Regions from separate parts of the Homo sapiens genome. Here region 2 is linked to region 1. The links come from fine-mapping of genetic effects on gene expression. Tissue or cell type: tibial artery. Region 1 holds a variant in brackets; the other region holds the start of a gene. All regions are shown on one strand. Distances are between the middles of the regions.

Region 1 (2,754 bases):
GCTTTAGGGGACCATGAAGAGACTCTCTTAGGGAAACCAATAGTCCCCATCAGCACCATGGAGGCAGGCTCCCCCTGCCTTTGAAATTCCCCCACTTGGGAGCTTGTATATACTTCACTCACTTTTCTTTATTGCTGTGAATAGTCTGTGTGCACAATGGGCAATTCTGACTTCTCCCATCTAGTGGAAATGAGCGAAATCATGGTTGTAGTGATGTTGTTTGGGAGAGTGCAGTAGTAATTGATTTGACCCACTCACACTTGGAGCTAATTAAGGTTTGCCCTGCCTGCAGCCTCCCCCACAAATAATGAACAGCAGAAAGACTGGACGGGGAAACCTATCAATCCTGCCCCCAGCCATGGTGAGGAAGCCCCAAGCCATGGTGACACACAGCAGCACTGCAGATAGCCAGACACATGGCTATCCTAGAGAGGCTGGCAAGGAGTTCGTGGCTGCAAAAGAAGTTTCTGGAGCAAGAGAGAGCTCGCTCTTGGGAGTCAGGACCTCCGGGGAGAGCAGAGGGTTCCGACGGATTCCTTTATGAGTCAGTCTCTCTCTCCCTTTTAAATGGTGGGAACCCTCCCCAAAACCTTTCCCCAGACACATTCTCCTGTGCCCCTCAGAGAGGCATGTGATGTGCAAGGAAAATAATAGGATATAAAACACATCAAGTAGAAAATTTCTTATACTTCAGCTTCAGTGAAGTGTTGTCTATGTTAATAGGCAAGTTGAACCTCGGGCTAAAGAAAGGAATTGTGTGGATGGCTGCCTTGACTGAGACAATATGGGCAGGGGGGCGTTCCTGCTTCCCCAGAACAAGGGCAGGCTTCCCAAAGGCACCCCTTATTTGCTGTCTCTTCGTAAGCGTGGGCACCAGTGGGTTGATGTGGGAAACAGTGCTGGTGCAAGTGTTTAAGTTTTGGATAAACTGAGGATTTTGAGAATCATTATTACATTACATAGCAACAAAGAAACAGATTGATATAATCTGTGTGAAATAAATTGCTGAGGAGAGGGATTGTAGGGAAGAAGTTGCTTAGTTAGGCACCTGGGAAGCTCAAATCATTTAGTTTAAACTGTAAGTAGAGTTGTCTTCCCAACGAGAACTGGTGATTCCTGATTTCAGAAGGCTCATCAGACCCCTACACCCAAGTCTTTTAACACGGAGGAAGTTTTTCCTTCATGAATACATACAAGATACCGAACTGAAGAAATCTTTTCTTTGCTCCAACCCCCGCTCCCCCGGCCCCCCGAAGCTATTAATAGTCATTCAAATGGCACTGCACTCTTTCCAAGCTTTCCTAAGCTAAATATGGCTCCAA[C/A]AGGTCTGGGAACTATTGAATGCAATGTACTCTGAAATTCCAGCAGCTGTTTACATGCCTGATGCCTAATGCCATACGCCTGGAACTTGCTGAGAACTCTCGGCTGCCTCTGTCCTGGGGTACTATTGCTGACCAGCAGGGTGTAGGCGCTGCTTTTGTTTGAGCTTTGTAGCCACAAGGTCTGATGTCTGTTGTGAACAGCAGCTGACTTCAGCACTCTGGCCAGCTTCCTCAAACTTGTTAGTGGCTTGCATTTTGTCAATTTTTCTTTGCCATTTCAGTCTTTCAAGCAGCTGAATCGCAGAACTGAAACAAAACACTTATATTGCAAAGTTCCTTCCCTTTAAAATGAGCTTCTGGATTGCAGAGATGATTTTTTATGGTCTTAGCGTGCCTCATGCTGTAGACCACATCGTTGGAGCTCTGGGAGAGCTCTGAGCAGAGAAAGACCTTGGTGATCCCCCCTGGCCCGATCTATAGGATTGAGGAATGAGGCTTGTAGAGGTGGCTTGCCCAAGGTCACAACACTAGAGGGTGGTTGAGCTGGGCCAGGACCCAGACAAGCCCTTTTCTCTCAGTCTAGTGAGGCCTCTGGGAAGGATAGGTGAAAACTATAAATAGCTGTTCAAGATACTCTGAGTAAAAGTCAGTGGTGTTATCTGGAATTTCTACTGAAGAGGAAATACAGCAGCAAAGGTAGACTCATCAGATGGTGAAAGTGTCATCTCCTTTGTAATTTATACTGGTGAGAGGAGGGGAAGGATGTGCTTTCCTATTTTTACACTGGTACTTCATTCATCCTTGTCTTAAACTTAAGAAATGAAATGCATCAGGGCACACATATACATAGAAACAGCACATAAGCCATTTTGGATGGCAATTCCAGCACTCTTTTAATGGATTGGCTTAATTTTTTTTTCTGATGCCTCTCTATGTGTTTGAAAAGTTGTATTGATAGTCACACAGAGTGTACTAAAATAACCTAAAAGGTCTTGAACCTCCCCTTTACCTCTTTAGAACCTCTGAATTTGGAGACAGCTAGCAAACGGCAACTGTAGCCTAGCAAAGATGGCACAGCACCACAAAGGGCAAATGGAGTCAACTCCCTTCCATGCTCTGAAGGTCTTGGCCACTCTCATCAGGGTTGGCTGTGTACTATCCAGCAGCTCACAGTCAGGAGACCTCCCCTCCTCAGTCCCTCCCATTTCTTTCTTCCGCAAGGAAAGAACATTGCATGTGGGCGTGTGTGTGTGTATGTGTGTGCATGTGTGTGTGCATGTTTCTTCTGTGCATAGCAGCATAAAGTTAGGAGATGATGACTCCAGAATCATCACACCCGCTGTGCAGGTCATAGGACCGCACACCCGAGGCTGGGAGTCTAAGTGGTAGATGCTTCCTCTCCATGCGCAGACAGGGCTCCCATTATTTGCTA
Region 2 (2,754 bases), 40 kb before region 1:
AACCTTGCCCATGGTTGCCTGGAATAGAGGGTGCTTTTCCCACCCTCCTTTGCAGCTAGCAGTGCCTATGTGACTAAGTTCTGAGCAAGAGGTGTGGAATTGATGGCTGCCACTTTCAAGATGTGTCTTTATGGGTGGAGGTGCACCCATCTCCTTCCCATTCCTCCTTCCTGCTGGTTGGAATTTGGATATCGTGGCTGGAGCAGCCACCTTGGATCATGAGGTGGAAATCTTGGACCAAAGGATGGTGGAAGCTAGAAGACCCAGGCACCCTGATGATCAGGGAGCAGCCACTCCAACCTTGGGCTGAACCTCTGGCCTTGCTTTACATGAGAGAGCCCTTGGTTATGCCATTGTTGTTTGGGGTGGGATTTTCTGTCACTCCCAGGTGAACAACCTAATCCTAAGTGATACCTAGAAGGTCCCTGCTAGACTGACCTCTTGGGAGGGGAGGGAATAAACGAGTCTCAGGTGGTGGAACCAGAGCTTGCTGGAGAGGAGAGTCTCTCCTGGTGAATGGAAGCCAGGGGCCCCTCCCACTGGCTGTCTCCTTCCCTGGGCTCAGGCAGGTCCAGCCTTCCTCAGGACTTTGAGAAGTTCAGTTCTCTCCCCAGGAGTAGCTACTTTCACAAACTTCCTGTCCCTTTAGTCGACATGCCCCACGGCAGGTCCGAGGCTGGGCTCTGCCACAACTCATCTTTCCTAAGAGTGGCATCAAGGTTCTTTGGTGGGGGATCCTCTTTTCCCATCCCCACTTCTCAAGAGCATTAGGGAAGATACAGTCAGTGCCCTCTTAGCATTCTCTTTCCACTTGTTGGGTGTAAGAAGGGAACCTGAGGGCCCTGCAGTGTTTAGGGGTGGGAGTGGAAACAGACAGGAAAGATCCAGAGTCCCCAAGAAGCGAAGCAGGGAGAGAGATAAAGAAGGCAGGAACAACCATGGACACACATTATCACACATACACAGGTTACAAGAGCAGGAGGCTGGAGCTGCAAGAGGTGGCAGGGAAGCTTCCAGAAAGGCAGACCCCAGCCTCATCCCTCCCTGCCCTGCAATGCTGAAGTTTCCAGGTAGAGGGGAACCTCTAGACCCTTGCGACTGTCAGAGTTCTGTGGATCCATTTGTCAGTCTCCCCACCCCCAACCTTGACTATCCTGGGCCTGCCTTCAGGACAGAACATGGGAATGAGAAGAGGACCTGGGAAGGGGTAATCCTGGGAAAAAAAAGTTCTTATTAGTCACCCCTGGCTCTGAGGATACTTTCCAGGAGTGGCCTGCCAAGCCGTGTGACCTTGGACAAGTCCCGTCCATTCCTCAGGCCTCAGTTTCCTTTGAGGGACCCTGAATGGGCGGGGGTTGCTGTAGCTTTCCTCAGCTGGGAGACCCGGGAGGAGGTCCGGGGTGCCAGGGTGGGAGGAGGGCCTGGCTTGTCGCTGAAAGCCGGCCAGGCGCACTGTCGGCGCTCAGAGCTGGTGGCCGCCTCCTGCGCTTCCTGATTCCCAGCCGCGCTCGCTCGGAGAGCAGTGCCCGCTATCTCCTGGCCCGGGACCGGCAGAGGGGTGCGGCGGGGCGGGCCCAGGGGTCTCTGGCGGCCGGAAGAACCGGGACCCTGCCAGGCCCCTCCCGCGGGCAGGGCGGCCCCTCGCCGGCTCCTCCCCCACCGCCCGCCACCAGCCCGGGATCAGTCTCCGCACGCGGTTCCGCAGGTGGCAGCGATGGCCCAGTCCTGAACTCCCCGCCATGGCCGGCGCCCCCGGCCCGCTGCGCCTTGCGCTGCTGCTGCTCGGGATGGTGGGCAGGGCCGGCCCCCGCCCCCAGGTGAGATCCAGGGACCCCGACGACACCGGGGGAGGCGGGTGGCTCTGCGGGCTGCAGGCGCAGTGTCCTGGTGGAGGGCCCCGGGACTTGAACGAAACTCCGAGACCGCTGGCGGGGGCATCCGAAAGCCTCGGGGGGAGTAGGGACTGGAGACTTGGTGCCCCTGGGCTGGAAGGCCCAGGTGAGGGCTTGGACTACAGAGGATTCCCCCCAACCCCAGCGAGGCGCCCTCTTCCTCGCCACCCGGGTCCCTCTGCCCGGGCACCCGCTGCCCCGCGGCCGCCCTGCGCTGACTTCTGCTCCGCTTCTCCTTTGTCCCCAGCACTTTCCCAACTCCTTCTAAACCGTGTCAGCGGCCCTGGCACAGCCCGGCATCCTCCCGGACTCCCTCTGCCCCACAGTCTGACCCAGACCCCTCTCCCGCAGTGCCTCCCCAGACAATCCACCTGCTCAAAGACCCTGAGAAGACCCTGGGAGGAGCTGAGAGGGCCAGGGTGCGGAGACCCGGCTCCTCTCCCTTTCTCATCAGCCCCCAGCACAGCCTTTGATTCATGGCTCCTGGGGCCCTGCGGTGGCAGCTTGTCCTTCCCAGTGACCTCCCAGATGGAACCTACCCCCCGTCCCCTACCAGCCTCTGTAGCAAACAGGCAGAAGGCTCAGTGCCCCCCTGGAAGCAGCCAGGCGCCCCCACTCACCCACTCTGCTGACCTCCCATTCTCATCCTGCACTGACAGCAGGCCCCAAGAGAAGGCATACTGGGACACGCAAGAACACCTGGGCTCCTTGGTGCCACCAGAGAGCAGGCCACAGGTGGACCACCGCAGCCCCTCTCTCTTGCCCTTGTTGCTTTTCCTGCCCTGGGATCCTGGGCTAGGGACAGTGGTCAGCTGCTTTTGAAGAGGGGAGCTGTCCAAAGATGCTGGGACTTGCTTGAGCA

What was found. PIP is the estimated chance that this variant, and not a neighbour inherited with it, causes the effect.
Region 2: it holds the start of GLP1R, and the variant in region 1 is fine-mapped to the expression of GLP1R in tibial artery (GTEx, PIP 0.98).

Annotation. Positions count from the first base shown.
Region 1 is chr6:39,087,052-39,089,805 of GRCh38, forward strand. GLP1R (glucagon like peptide 1 receptor) reads left to right here. Exons shown (of 13, transcript NM_002062.5): 13 at 1-2,754. Among named protein-coding and RNA genes, the nearest start is that of MIR9983, 14 kb to the left of the region's middle. RefSeq lists an enhancer at 776-2,082. The variant C/A (reference allele first, on the strand shown) is at 1,323.
Region 2 is chr6:39,047,102-39,049,855 of GRCh38, forward strand. GLP1R (glucagon like peptide 1 receptor) reads left to right here and starts at 1,680. Exons shown (of 13, transcript NM_002062.5): 1 at 1,680-1,817. The coding sequence starts at 1,740. RefSeq lists an enhancer at 2,364-2,754.